Regions from separate parts of the Homo sapiens genome. Here all the other regions are linked to region 1. The links come from fine-mapping of genetic effects on gene expression. A gene starts in region 1. Each other region holds a variant in brackets. All regions are shown on one strand. Distances are between the middles of the regions. Region 1 holds the start of GPD2 (glycerol-3-phosphate dehydrogenase 2). Region 2 overlaps GPD2 (glycerol-3-phosphate dehydrogenase 2). Region 3 holds the start of LOC124906173 (small nucleolar RNA U13).

The links. PIP is the estimated chance that this variant, and not a neighbour inherited with it, causes the effect. A credible set is the group of variants that fine-mapping cannot tell apart.
Region 2: its variant is the best candidate, but not a certain one, in a credible set for the expression of GPD2 in monocytes after Pam3CSK4 (Quach 2016, PIP 0.72).
Region 3: its variant is the best candidate, but not a certain one, in a credible set for the expression of GPD2 in whole blood (INTERVAL, PIP 0.57).

Annotation. Positions count from the first base shown.
Region 1 is chr2:156,433,583-156,438,813 of GRCh38, reverse strand. It overlaps GPD2 (glycerol-3-phosphate dehydrogenase 2), which reads right to left and starts at 2,435. Exons shown (of 17, transcript NM_000408.5): 1 at 2,301-2,435. RefSeq lists silencers at 2,314-2,723, 3,164-3,333 and an enhancer at 2,874-2,923.
Region 2 is chr2:156,459,921-156,465,151 of GRCh38, reverse strand. The region is part of intron 1 of GPD2 (glycerol-3-phosphate dehydrogenase 2); the gene reads right to left. Among named protein-coding and RNA genes, the nearest start is that of GPD2, 26 kb to the right of the region's middle. The variant AT/T (reference allele first, on the strand shown) is at 2,698.
Region 3 is chr2:156,409,127-156,414,357 of GRCh38, reverse strand. It overlaps LOC124906173 (small nucleolar RNA U13), which reads left to right and starts at 4,112; the gene lies at 4,112-4,214. It also overlaps a transcript of GPD2 not described here. The variant T/AT (reference allele first, on the strand shown) is at 2,443.

The DNA of each region.
Region 1 (5,231 bases):
AGGTTAACTATTTTTTTATTTAGCACTTATTACACAATATAATGCTGCACAAGAATACAGAAAATTTCATTTAAGAAGACTAGTGTTCATATATTTGATTTCTAGTCCTCTTTCTGAAGTGTTGTTTCTGCACTTAGGATAGCCCCATGAGTCCAGGTGTTGACAAACAGAAAGAATCAAGTTTTGGAAAACCTAAACAGAAACATCATCACATTCAAAAACTAAAACTGAGAAATTAGATACTGATCTGAAAATTGCTTCCCTTCTCTAATAACCATAGCTACCACTAACTCGCCTCTCCTCTCCCCATCCCAACACACTCAACTAACCGAAAAAAATGTACGGATAATTCATGCACAACATGCAAGAATTCTTTGCCCAAATTTTCAAGCTAACTACATTCTTTGCCCATATTTTCCTACTTGAGTATAAGAAGGAAAAATATAGGATGGAAGCTAGTCTTTTGAAGTCTACTACTTGCCAGGTACATTGCTAGCAATTTTACACACGTCATAGCATTTATTATCCATATTTTGCCAATGAGACAATTGAGGCTGAGTTTTAAAAGATGACCTAAGGCCAAAGTCTTTGGCTCCCCGCTCCACAACTACCCTCAGCTGGAGTTTGTTCCACAGTTCAGTCGCTCATTGAGAAAACATTTATTGAGGGTGTATTACAAGCTAGTCACCCCTCTAGGCATTGGAGGTCACTCATTGAGAAAACATTTATTGAGGGTGTATTACAAGCTAGTCACCACTCCAGGCATTAGAGTTTTGAAAGTATGCAAGACAGAACAAGCCCTGCTACTCTCATAGAACTTACACGCTAGAGATGAAAGAAAACAACCAAACAGGATAAGTTCAGAGTTATAATAGTTTGCCAACATGAGTTATGCACAATAATCATCAAATCTTTTAAAATATCTACAATGAGATTAAATAGTTACAAAAAAAACTAAAGGGGGTGGTAACACTCACTAACAATTGGTAACACTGTGGCCCTTTTGTCAATTCCTGAACCAAGCCATTGCATCTTTGAATGAATCACAAGGGAGAAAGAAGGAAGCAGAGCTCTAATGCTGTTTAGAATTTCTTTATAAAATAAAGTGACTCTATAAGCTATGAGAATGGACAGTTGCAATGAATCCATTGTTGGTTCTCAAACCCAAAACCCCATATTTACCCATTTATTCATTAAAATATTGCTGTATTATTTCACGAGTTGATTTGTAAAAGTCAAGGGAGTGTTGTAATTTGACATAACGCCCCTGTGAGAAACAGAGGGGGGTTTCAACATCCACATCACAAGGTTCCCCAGACTGCACACGGTCTCCATTGGGCAATGGCATCCAGATGTCATGTGGTAGCCAGCAAGAACTGTAGGACTGGGACTAGAGTGGTCAGTAGCTACGAAGAAGTGCCTGGGCCCAGTGTGACAGCTGCCAGCACCGTCCACACGCCAAAAAGAAACTTCACATCTCTTTAAACTTGGAACACATGCAAAATACTAACAGTTTTGTTTTAGCAATAAAGACTCCCTGTCACTTACTAACTTCCTTCCCTCACCTATTTATACAAGTATAAGTTGACTAGCTGCTATTTCTATAGCTGCCTCCTATGATATTTATAATGTGTTGTGTGTGATTTGGGTTGCCCATGTCACTAACACTTTGCAAGAATTTGTGTTTGTAAATTACTCTGGAACTCTTCTGGGAGTGAATATTCCACTGCACAAGGTGGAAGCCAGACTAGAGACCATCTGCTAAGAGCAGCACTTCATTCACCCAGCTACACCTTCCTGCCAAAGCACTCTTTGCAAATCTATTTTTGCTGGTAGAAGTTACTACATAGGGAGTGGAGGCTGTTTTAAGTTATCAGTGTGCACCTTCCATTTCCTCCTAGGACGGTCACACGCCAGCAGCTGAGTTTCTCAAAGAAGCCTCAGCCCTCCTCCAGACTCGTTCTCACTCTTGCTTCGGAAGGGAGCAACAATCCTTATCAGACTAGCCGCATCTACAAGCTAAAAGTTTGCATGAACTTTCAATGGGGTACCAACCCTCGCCCCAAAAGTCCTGCCACTTTACTATTTTACAAATGCCGCCTCCAAAACATAAACAACGAAACCCTAGAGAAGAGCGAATCCATCTTCTGCTGGTGGGAAGAAATTCTAAATCTTTCCCGTTTCCCGCCACCACCTACCGCCAAGACTGGAGTCCCAGAACACTCGCCCGGGTCAGAAAGGGACCACTCCCCCCCTAGAATACTAGAGGCGGGGGAAGGGGTCTCCCAGGAAGCACACACCTGAGATAGATCCTCACGCGCGAGGGGCCAGCGGGCAGGAGCACCCAGTTCCTCCAGCCAGGGTGGAGTCGGCCTCCCCCCAGAATCAGAGCCTCGGCCCGGGTGCTCCCAGCGAGGCGCGCGGGGCTGTCACTCGAGGCGGGCTGGGCGGGTGTAACTCGAGCGCCGGGCGGGCCGCGCCCCCGCCTTCCCTCTTCCCGACTTCCTCCTCCCGCTCCCGCGCCTGCTCCCTCCCGGAGGCCTGACCAGGGCGGCGAGGCCGCCACCTCCTGCCCGGATACCTCGGGCCCAGGCTCCTCCGGCCCAGCGGGGAAACGCGGAAGTGGGGGCGGGAACCGGGGCCGGGGTTGGCGGGGGTGTGGGAGGGAAAAGCCAACAGCGGGCGGCGAGCGAGGTGGTCTCCGTGGCCCAATGAACGTGACTAGACGGGGACGCGGGTCCTGCCGCCGGGTGGGGTCGCGCAGCGCCACACGCAAGGGCCCTCGCCCCTGGCTGCAGTTCCTGCTTTGTGCCTCGGCGATGCCGGACTCCAGACCTCCGCCCCGCCTTGCCAGCGGGCTGGCGGACTGGAAAGCCTGAGCTAGGCCAGGCTGGGGAAGACGGTGGCGGTGTCCGATTTCCTGTGCCCTCGCCCATGCGGGCCGCCCTGGCCATCTGCCTGCGGGAGAGGAGACACTCGTCCGCCGGCACGCTGGCGGGGCTGGCTTACCTGACGACTTCTCGTTGTCCGCCCTGGGATCTGGCTTCTCCTACTCTGTACCTCCCGGCCGGCAGGCTTCCCTAGGCCTACAGACGTGTCCAGGAGGCGGGCGACCCTGCGACCCCGCCGTCAGAGCCCAGAACCCTCGCCCGGCTCCCCCGGCGGGCTCTGGAGGCGCGCCAGGCCTCCTGGCTCCCCGCCTGAATGTCAGCGCAGGGACCCGCAGGGAAGACCAAGCCCAAGCTCCAGGGGGTGGAATGCTGAGCACAGGTTCCCCAGACCCAGCCTCATACAGGTGGGGGGAGGCGGAGAGCCCCGGCAGCTGAACAGCAGGCTTCCCACTTGCAACCCCCCGCCACCCAAAAAAAAAAAACGACCCTGCCCACTGAGCATGCCCAGCTTACTTGTTGGAACTCCTAGGGCTAGACAAGCCCAAGGGGACCTAAGGAAGGCAAAGTTGGGGCTCAAATGGACCCCACTTCTTTAACAGCTTTGCTCCGAAGACCTCTGGGTGCTGTACTAATAACCTTTCTATCGTGGTATTGGAAAATATCCAGGAGATGGACGGAAATGCCTTTCCAAAAGAAGGAAGAAAATTAGTGTGAACCAAAAAGCAGTGGTATTTTTTTAAATAAAGTATTAAGTCACTCATTTAATGTCCTTAAATACCGCAGAATTCCTGTAGTTGACCCAGAGGAATGCATATATTTATTAAATCCCAAACTCAGTAACTTCAGGGAACCATCCATAGTCCACAGAGGAGCAATGATTCTCACCCTTGGACACATTAAAATTGGGGGGAGGGGGCAGGGAGGGGTGGAATGCCAGATTTCCATCCCCAAGTCCAATGAGTCAGTCTGGACGTGGGATCTGCAAGTCCTTGTATTTTAAAACTGGCTCTAAAAGTGTAGTCACTGGAGCCCGCAGCATCAGCATCACCTGAGAACTTGACAGAAACTGTACTCCAGTGACCTGATTCATAGACTCTGGGGCTGGGGCTGAGCTACCCAGATTTAACAAGCCCTTTGGGTAGTTCTGATGCACATTAAAGTTTGAGAACCACGGTTTAAAAGCTCCCCCAGTTGAATCATGAGCAACCAGAAAAAGGAAATTGTAGTTGAGAAAAGAAAAATAGTTCAGAGCATTTGAGCAATGTGAGGTATGCAAAATTTATCAGGCCCAGAGAGACCTTGAATATGGGACATAAGTTGCACCCCCCACACTCATGCTCAGAGGCGATTGTTTAAAGGCATTTTGTTCATGACTGACTACCCAACCATATCTTCATGTTCCTGGAATTTGTGATACGAAGAACAATCTATAGACAATTAATAGTTTGTTTTTTTATGTAAATTATTGGTAAACAATTTAGAAACTGCCTCTTCTTTTCCTTTAAAAACTTCCTTGTGGCCGGGCAGGCGCAGTGGGTCACGCCTGTAATCTCAGCACTTTGGGAGGCTGAGGTGGGCAGATCACGAGGTCAAGAGTTCAAGACCAGCCTAACCAACATGGTGAAACCCTATCTCTACTAAAAATACAAAAATTAGCCGGGCATGGTGGCAAACACCTGTAATCCCAGCTACTCAGGAAGCTGAGGCAGGAGAATCACTTGAACCTGGGAGGCAGAGGTTACAGTGAGCTGAGATGGCACCACTGAACTCCACCCTGGGCAACAGAGTGAGACTCCATCTCAAAAAATAAATAAATAAAAACTTGTGACTGGGCAACATCATGAGACTGGTTATATTAAGTATGCCTCAGTTCTTTTTTCTTTAGTTTGACAAATCAAACCAATATTTTTATCATTTTTTTCAAACCCTCATCATTTATCTAGAAATGCAACATGTTACCCAGAAAAGGAATAATCTGGTTGAGTTGGGTGCCAGTCCTGGATTTCCTTCTCACTGATTATCCCAGATCAGTTCAGTGCTTGGGAAATGGGACCATCAGTTACTCACTTTTGTACTCTAGTGCCTAGCATAGTGCCTGAATATAACTGATGTTTAAATGTTTCTTGATTTGAAATGAATGCTTAGGTGAGCGATCTGGTCCAATCCATACTATGTCAGCTGATTATTTTCCCCACTAGTCCTAGTCACACTGCTAGCTAGTGTAACCGCCCAAGGGGTTCACCTTGCCCGCTGCCTAGACAGAGTCGATTGATCAAGACAAGGGAATTGCAAGAGTAATTCACGCAAAGCCAGCTGTGCGGGAGACCAGAGTTTTATTAT
Region 2 (5,231 bases), 26 kb before region 1:
AGGCCGGGCACGGTGGCTCATGCCTGTAATCCCAGCACTCTGGGAGGCCGTGGCGGGTGGATCACTTGAGGTCAGGAGTTCGAGACCAGCCTGGCCAACATGGTGAAGCCCCATCTCTACTAAAACTACAAAAATTAGCCAGGCGTTGTGATGGGTGCCTGTAGTCCCAGCTACTCAGGAGGCTGAGGCAGGAGAATCACTTGAACCCAGGAGGTGGAGGCTTTAGTGAGCCAAGATCATGCCACTGCACACCAGCCTGGGCAACAAAGCAAGACTCCATCTCAAAAAAAAAAAGAAAAGAAAATGTACCAATTCTTTCAAAAGTTCCTGTTGCAACTGCATTATATGCCGTTAGAAATATATTTGGGGAAGTATCTGTTGAAGATGGTTTAAGAAATCCTGAGCTTATTTTTTTAAATTATGACTGAATTTTTAATAATAATTAGTTATAGCACAATAACTTCAGTTATTGTTCAGTTCATTGTAAAAGAAAGTTCTCAATTTGAATACAGCTCTATTATAAACATCACTACACATATATTTAATGTATAAGTGGTGACTGAGAGTTATAAGAGATCAAGAAGTGCGCTGTGGTGGGAAGACCAGTCACTCTGTTTCCTTAACAGAGAGAAGATCCCTAGGAAAAAAGCTGACTAGTTTTTCCATCCTGCAGTCTTTTTTCTCCTGTAACCTGTTGAAATTTACATTTAAAATTTACTCCTCTGTACATCTAATAATCCACAAGTATAAATGGAACTACAACAAAGAGCCAAAGTACAGATACAATGCATATATGAAAAAGGAAACCTGAGACGTACTGTAGTGAAAATAATCATGTATTAGAATATTTAGCTTACTGATTACACTTCCTAAAAATGTCTGACTCACAAGGAAATAAGAATCAGATGAGAGAAACAGATTGAAGTAATTCATACTGCTAACAAAATTCCCATTTAAAGTAAGTGAAAACAATGTATTTCCTAAATGCTCCATCCCCACTCCAAAAAAAGTGAAGAAAATATACTACATTTTCCTTCACCTATGCAAAAATAATGAGGAAAGCTGTATTTCTATCTCAGTCATTTTGGCTAAAATGATCTTGGTCATAAGATCTTACTCTCCTCAGTTGAATAACGCATCCTTTCCAAACTAAAGAAAAAGATATTTCTTTTCTTCTTTAAAAGGGCTAGCACAAACCCTCATGAAAAGCATTCAAGTACTATAGTCTAGTTATTCTGCATAAGATGTTTGGTATCAACACTACAGAGCTAATAGCACAGAGGTGACAGGTCTAAAATTTAAATAGCATAAATAGAGAAAATAAAGGGTTCGACTCAATATTCCTTTTGAAGCTGTCATTGATCTTTTTTTCAAAAAAGAACTCTATAGTCTTTCCCAAAAATATATAATTCTCTATGTTGTATTCCCAAAACTCTAAATTAAAAAAGAAAATCATCAGGGGGTATTCTGGAAGGAAAGACACGCTTGTAATTCTGTCTCTTCCACTAACTTGCTCTGCGATTTCAGGCAAATCACTTGAACTTGCTGATCCTCACTCCAACTATATATGAGCTAGCCTTCAAAATGTCCAAAGCTATTTTAACTTTAAAAGTTTATTACTTTATGGTTTTTCTTCATTCAATAGATGAAGAAGGGGAAACAACCCTCATGCATTAAATGTGGCATTATCTTAATGTCCTATTTATTTAGCACTGTTAGATAATTAAAACTTGCATTCATGGTTTTATTTAATAATTATTTACTGATCATCCATCATGTGTCAGGCACTGAGCAAACAAAGAACACACACAAAAAAATCCCTGCATTCCAAGAGTTTACATCTGAGTGGAGTATACAGTTAAAAAAAAAATTCTGTATTCTTTTGGATTAAAATACTATATTTCAAGAATGTAAGTCACACTTTGGCTTCTTAAATAATATTAACCATGAATTCAATTATTGACGACTTACAGCCATCCATATGTACATGCTATGATATGGTGATGGCCTCAGGAATAATAGGAGTGACAACACTATTAATGCCTTTACTTAGTGGTCTCAGGTCCCAGTCTGTTCCTGTATGAATTCTTCCTCTCTCTGCTTCCTACAATTTTCCTGCTTCTTCCAAACTATCAGGCTGATGATAATCTTCCCTGTTTATCTTTGAGCTCACTTCTTTTTTAATACTTTAAGTTCTAGGATATATGTACACAACATGCAGGTTTGTTACATAAGTATACATGTGCCATGTTGGTGTGCTGCACCCATTAACTCGTCATTGTTACCACTGTGGTTAGAAAAATGAGAGCCAAGTTAGTTTAACTGTTTCAAATACAAGTAAATAGCTCTAAGTAAGGCTAAAGGAGCTACTTACTAGAATTTTAACACTTGGTTTTCAATGTTCTGGCTCTAACTCTTCAGGGATCTTTTTACCCCCTTCTTTTATGTGTTTCAGGTTAGTGGAGCTTACTAGAAAACATCTGGATTTTGCTGTACACACTGTGAATGAAACAAACTACCCCAGCCTCTTACATAGAGTTAAGAATGTCAGGCTAGGTGCGGTGGCTCATGCCTGTAATCCCAGCACTTTGGGAAGCCAAGGCAGGCAGATCACCTGAGGGTGGAAGTTTGAGACCAGCCCGACCAATATGGAGAAACCCCGTCTCTACTAAAAATACAAAAAAAAAAAAAAAAAAA[AT/T]GTATCCGGGTGTGGTGTTGCATGCCTGGAATCCCAGCTACTTGGGAGGCTGAGGCAGGAGAATTGCTTGAACCCGGGAGGCGGAGGTTGCAGTGAGCCGAGATCACGCCATTGGACTCCAGCCTGGGCAACAAGAGCAAAACTCCATCTCAAAAAAGAAAAAAGAAAAAGAAAAAAAGAATGTCAAACCAGGTACATGCACAGAGTCCAGGCCTTAGAAAAAGAAAATTCTTATTTCAATTCTACCTCATCTGAATAGATCCACATTATCTTGAAAAAACATGGCAACACTCTCTGCTTCTGTGCTAGAAACAATTAGTATATTTTTCTGTGCTCTCCTGCATTTAAAGAAATATTTGCAGATAAATGGACCAAAAAAATCCATCTGCTGCTTCTAAAAAACTCGAAAATTCCTTGAGAACTGGCTTATTGAAAACATACCAATAGCAAAGGAAAGATTAAAATTGTAATTTCTTAGAATATAACCAAAGCAAGAGTTCCATCAAATACTCAGGAAAGTATCCGTGAAGGACCTACCCAAGTGAAGAAGACAGGAGGAGGAGCATTGGTTCAGGTAACATACATTCAACTGGGATTGACTGAATACCTGGCAGATCCCCAGCACTGTTCCAGGGGCTGGGAATTCCTCTACTCTCATGGATTGGAAAAGACAAAAATAAACATGTAAACAAACATAAAAATTAAGTATTTTGAAAGTGAGAATTACTAGGAGAAAATAAAGATGAAATAATAGGTTAGAGGATAACTGGGGTAGGCTGGACATGATGGCTCATGCCTGTAATCCCAGCACTTGGGGAGGCCAAGGTGGGAGGATCGCTTGAGGTCAGGAGTTTGAGACTAGCCTGGGTAACATAGTGAGACCCTGTGCCTACAAAAAATAGAAAAAATGAGCTGGGCATGGTAACATGCACCTATAGTCCCAGCCACTCAGGAGGCTGAGGCAGGAGGATTGCTTGAGCACAGGAGTTGGAGCCTACAGTGAGCCACGATCACACCAACCTGGGTGACAAAGTGAGACCCTGTCTCAAAAACAAACAAACAAAAAAGTCAGTGGAGAATTTTAATCAGTACAATGATACGATGAAACTTATATTTCAGAAAGAAAGGAAGAAATGCCCTAGCTGCAGTATAGAGGATGCCTTTTAGGGTAATAAGAGTAAAAGTAGAGCCTGGAAGGTCAAGGCTACAGCGAGCTGAGATCCCACCACTGCACTCCACCCTGGGCAACAGAGTGAGATCCTGTCTCAAAAAAAAAAAAAAAAAAAAAAAAAGAGATAGAGAGAGATAATGTGATAATTTAGTGCTTGCCTGCAGGAACACAACTACTCCTATAGGCACAGGCACAGCCAGGGACCTGCTAGTGATAGGATGCTATCCTTGGCATATTCAAATGACACCAATGACCCCCAGGAGAGAGAGAGGGTTGCTTTTTCATTAGGATACCATTAGCCATGTTCATAATGAGTAGATGCAAGTATAGAAAAAAGGACACAATGGGAGAGGGGGAAAGAGTTAACAAATTATATGAGAAAACAGGCAAAAATACCAACTGCAATCTACAAGATTCTATAATAGGGAAACAAATACTTTAGGGATAAACTTGAATGTAAATATGTACTGAACTTACATACTTGAAAGACTGTTCATCTCACTCAGTCTAACAGGCTAACAACAATGAACAGACAGTGTCATCTAAGAGAGCCTCTTAAATGCCAACAGAAGTCTTTTTTATATTTCTATTTCCCCTTGGGCTGGGGTTGTTTCCAGGTGACTTTTCTCACCCCACAACTCATTATAATTTGCACTGATTTTGGACCCATATTGGAAAAGAACCCTAGGTCACATCTCTAAAGGCTGACGCACCCAGAACATTTCCCACCAACTACAGGCCAGGAAGTTAAGAGCTGTGTGAAGCTTATTGACCCAGCTGAGTATAAATTTCCAACAGGCAAGAGAGACTGCATATGATTAATTACAGTTATTTATATTTATGGGTTTGAATCTTGAGGATGCCTGGCCTATCCCCATTTTATTTCATAATTTTCCCCCTATTGGAGACTGAAGAGCAAAAGTCAATTGCCTGAAGTGTTGGCATCACACTGGAAACTAAAGGGCCATGCATTTCAATTCCAGCTCAAGGAACACTCTGACTGAGCAGATGCAATTCACCAGACCCCAGTGGGCTAGGATCGTACTGTTCTCAGTCAAATCACATAGCTGATGGAATTCAGCAGAGTACATTAGCAATTTATACTCAACAGCCTCTCTTCAACCATAAATTTTGAAATAATTTTGAGATAATGTCTGAGATAAAATTGGGATAATATTAAGTAAAACTTAAACTTAATCCAAAAAATTCAGGCCATAGTTTGAGCCTCTGTTCCTACCATGAAGCAGTCAGGAGGCAAGTGACTAAGTGGCATTTCTAATAGGATTCCTGTCAAAACGCCAGGTTCAGTATCAGTCCAATGACCTTCAGGCCTGACCTCACCTAGTGCACTTGAGCTTACTC
Region 3 (5,231 bases), 24 kb after region 1:
GCAGTTTATATACAATTTAAAGAATGGAGAAACATAGGTTGATAGTCACTTATACGTTATTTATGTTCAACAACAATACTCTGCTTTAAAACATCAATTCTGAAAGCAATATTCTAATTTCACTTAGAATATTGAAATAAGAATACATTGATGACATTTGTTCTTTATTTATATTCCAATTTTTAAATGGAAGAGTGAGAATAACATCAAGACCCTATTCTTTAATAATAAGGAAAATCAAACTTTGTCCCCAAGTGATATGTGCATTTGCATCAACTCTTCTTAATTTAACCTTAAAGTTATTTAAGCAGAAGTGACTGAATTTTTGAAGCAAACTAAATTCAATTGAATATTTCTGCTTATTCATTAATTATATTGAGCATATAAATCACTTTATTCGTATTTTCCACACTCCCATGGAAAAAGATTCAGGAATTATTTATTTATTTATTTGAGACAGAGTTTTGCTCTTATTGCCCAGGCTGGAGGTCAATGGCACGATCTTGGCTCACCACAACCTCCGCTTCCTGGGTTCAAGCGATTCTCCTGCCTCAGCCTCCCACGTAGCTGGGATTACAGGCATGCGCCACCACGCCTGGCTAATTTTGTATTTGTAGTAGAGACAGGGTCTCACCTTGTTGGCCAGGCTGGTCTTGGACTCCCGACCTTAGGTGATCCGCCCACCTCTGCCTCCCAAAGTGCTGGGATTACAGGTGTGAGCCACTGGGCCAGGCCTTATTTATTTTTATTTTTATTTATTTATTTTTTTTGTGTGGTGGAGTCTCACTCTGTCACACCCAGGCTGGAGTCCAGTGGCATGATCTCGGATCACTGCAACCTCTGCCTCCTGGGTTCAAGTGATTCTCCTGCCTCAGCCTCCCACGTAGCTGGGACTACAGGCACGAACCACCACACCTGGCTAATTTTTTTGTATTTTTAGTAGAGACGGGATTTCGCCATGTTTGCCAGGCTGGTCTCAAACTCCTGACCTCAGGTGATCCACCTGCCTCGGCCTCCCAAAGTGCTGGAATTGCAGGCATGAGCCACCTCACCTGGCTGATTATTACTTTCAGTATCACCCCCACCAAGATAGCTCTAAAAAGAATAAGCAAAGGTTATGGAATATTGATGAAATAAAGAGTTGCCATTTTTACGAGCTCAGAGAAAATATATTTTGGCTCTATGCAGTTTCTTCTCTCAGTTTTATAATTACTTGTCCTCTTAACACATTGCTCATCTTTCTCCCAACTCCACCCACCCTCAGACAGTGTCTTGCTCTGTCACCCAGGCTGGAGTGTAGTGGCATGATTACAGCTTACTGCAGCCTCAACCTCCAGGGCTCATGTAATCCTCCTGCCTCAGCCTCCCAAGTAGCTGGGACTACAGACACACACCATCATGCCAGACTAATTTTTGTATTTTTTGTAGAGAAGGGGTTTCACTATGTTGCCCAGGCTGGTCTCAAACTCCTGAGTTTAATTGATCCACCTGTCTCAGCCTCTCAGAGTGCTGAGATTACAAGCATGAGCCACTCACTGCTCCTGGCATCATAGTTTTAAAAGGTATAATTTTCTGCTTACTGTTTTTTCTTTAGGATAATCCAAAGCCAAATGTTGCTCATCTTTATACTAGTTAGAAGAAGGTTTTACAATATTGGTTCTCATTTGTTATGTATAGCTAATATTTATTGAGCTAATTTTACTATGTGCCAGACACTGTGGAAGAGCTTTATGTGCATTAGCCCATTTAATTCTCACAGCAACCCTATAAGATACATACAATTGTATGCCCTTTTTACCAAGAAGAAAACTGAGACAGAGGGGCTAAATGCCCCCATCAAAATTACAGAACTAGTAAAAGATGGAGATGGAATTGAAACCTTGGCAGTCTGACCAAATCCTGTATTTTTTTTTTTTTTTTACAGACGAAGTCTCACTCTGTGCCAGGCTGTAGTGCAGTGGCAAGATCTCGGCTCACTGCAACCTCCGCCTCCCGGGTTCAAGCAATTCTCCTGCCTCAACCTTCCAAGTAGCTGGGACTACAGGCATCCACCACCATGCCAGGCTAATTTTTTTTGTATTCTTAGTAGAGATAGGGTTTCACCATGCTGGCCAGGCTAGTCTCGAACTCCTGACCTCAAATGATCCACCCACCTTAGCCTCCCAAAGTGCTGTGATTACAGGTGTGAGCCACCACTCCTGGCCAAATCCTATACTCCTAAGGATTGTACAATGGGGCAAGTTTTTCATACAGTTGTCTGCAGATATTTTTAAAGGCTGACTAATAAATCCTACATCTTTGCGGCTCAATACTACTAAGAGAAGCTTTGCATGGTTTCAGTGTTTTCAAATGAGGTGGCCAAGCACTTTTGCTCCGGATGGTAAACTGAAACAAAGAAGCGACTTCATATCTGAGTGAGGTTGGTTTTCCTGGCTAGGCATA[T/AT]ATTCCTAAAGCCCATGAAAGATTATGTAGGAAGAATTCTTATCAATGATTCAAACATTTTAAATGCTATTTTTATAATTTGTATTGATTCTGTAATACAGGATCTTAAATTCAGATAATGACCATTATTTTTTGGAATTCCTTACCCTTCTGAAGAACAACTTTAGGTTTAAAGACCCTTAAGGTCATAGCAGAAAACATTTTATTAGTTCAATGTCTTTCAGCTACTTGGTGCTAACGGAAAAACTGCTAGAAATTCTCATTGCTGTTTTGTTTAATATACAGAATTTATATTCTGTATATTAGATTCTGTATATACAGATTACAATCCCAGCACTTTGGGAGGCTGAGGCGGGTGGATCACATGAGGTCAGGAGTTTAAGACAAGCCTGGCCAATATTGTAAAACCCTGTCTCTACTAAAAATACAAAAATTAGCTGGGCAGGGTGGTGGGTGCCTGTAATCCCAGCTACTTGGGAGGCTGAGGGAGGAGAATTGCTTGAATTCAGGAGGTGGAGGTTGCAGCGAGCCAAGATCACACCATTGCACTCCAGCCTGGGTGACAAGAATGAAACTCCATCTCAAAAAAATTTAAAAATAAAAAGAGAGAGAGAGAGAACTTATGTGACTGGAAAGTTATACAAATGAAGTACACAGACAATTTGTTATGGAGCCTAGACAAGTTGTTAAGAACATAAGCTCTAGAGTCAGAATTCCAGCCTTCTACTTACTTTTTGAAGGATTTTTAAATAAGCTACTTACCCCCTTGTTTTTTCATCTGTTAACTAGAAGTGTTCTAGTTTATGGTAATTATTTTGCTGTTCAAGTTAGACAACATCTAGTTTCTTATAAACACTATATGTAGTATTATTTATTTTCACCAACCCTATTATTTTTCTCCCACAACATAGAATTTGTCTTAGAAGTGGGGAAAATAATCACGTTAAAGTGGAAGTAATTTGTCTATGTTAGACATTCTGTTAATTGACCAAATGGAGTGTTCCTTTTACCAGTGCAATATCCTTTTGTGGCAAATGCTGTATATATATATAATTGAGGAAAGGGGAAAAGTGAAGAGGTCTCCAAGTAACTAATAGCAGTATTTACCTTTTAAGCACAAAATCTAGATAAGGTGGTCATTAATCCTAAGAAGCAAAACAGAGTCAAATGGTATATGACTTTGTAATGCAGCACTTTGCCATACATGAGTAAAACTAAAAAATAAAGACAAATGTGTTAATGGTTCAACCAAAGTTAAACCTGGAAGCTCCTATCAGGGTATCTTATTTAGGTGAGACGGGAGGGTTGCTTGAGTCTAGGAGTTCAAGATCAACCTAGGCAACACAGCAAGACCCCATCTCTAGAAAAAATATGGTAATCTTTTTTAAATAGAGCAAATTAGAAAATTCACAAAGCTAAGATGACTAGTAAATATATTATGTGCCAAAACACATATATAGATTTTGCAATGATATTTATAGGATTGAATGTGAAAATAAAAGTATGTTATTGCCTCTCTGAGGTTTTGTGTCCTCCTTGCTTTGTGTTATGCCTGTGTCTGCAACTTTTCACAATCATTAATTACATTTAATGCTTCTAGCTCCTAAAATAGTCATGAAAATAGAACTACAAACCTTTAGACTAGGAATTATTCTAGAAACTCATTCAGATCCTTCTGTAGTTTATAAGCATGATGACTGAGTATTCACCCGCATGTGTGAGACGTGCTGCCCTTAAACTTTGTTATGGTGTCACACACTGCTAGCCTGAAATGGAAGAAAAATAAATAAATAAAAGCAAAAAGCTAATTTTTAAAAAGTGGCTGTCAATTACTTTTATCATCTATAAGCCTTCCTTTTTTCTTCTTTTTGAGATGGGATATTGCTCTGTTGCCTAGGCTGGGGTGCAGTGCCACAATCATAGCACACTGTAGCCTCAAATTCCTGGGTTCAAGGGATCCTCTGCCTCAACACACCTGGCTAATTTTTTTATTAGCTGGTGTCTCACTGTGTTGACCCAGGCTGGTGTCAAACTCCTGGCCTCAAGGGATCCTCCTGCCTCAACCTCCCAAAATGTTGGGATTAAAGGCATGAACCACCATACCTGGTCCAGGATGTTAACTTTGGAGAATAGTTTATTTATGGAATATAGGTCCTCTCTCCTAACTATGCTGAATTGTTCCTTGACTTTCTAGGTTTTTTTGTTTTTGTTTTTTAAAGATGGAATCTCCCTCTGTCATTCAGTTTGGAGTACAGTGGTGAAATCATAGCTCACAGCAACCTCAAACTCCCAGGCTCAAGTGATCCTCCCACCTCAGCCTCCTGAGTAGCTAGGACTACAGGCATGCACCACCATGCCTGGCTAATTTTTTTTTATTTTTTGTGGAGTTGGGGGGTCTGCCTATGTTGGCCAGGCTGGTCTTGAACACCTGGCCCTGAAAGATCCTCCCACCTCAGCTTCCCAAAGAACTGGGATTATGATGTCAGCCACCACACTCAGCAGACTTTCTACTATTATTGTTGTGTTTAGCTTTGTGTTGCTTAAATTGTCAAGAACTAATATTAAGAATGAAGTTAATGGTATTAATGCACAAATATACTGGTCTCTGCCAAGTCAAAAATGTAAGACTATAGTATCCTAACTGCTGAGTTACTTCTTGATAACCTAATGCATTAGTTTGCTAGAGCTGCCAATAACAAGTATCACCAATTGTGTGGCTTAGAAATTTATTGTCTCAGTTTTGGACGCCACAGATCCAAGATCAAGGTGTTGGCAGAAATGATTTTTCT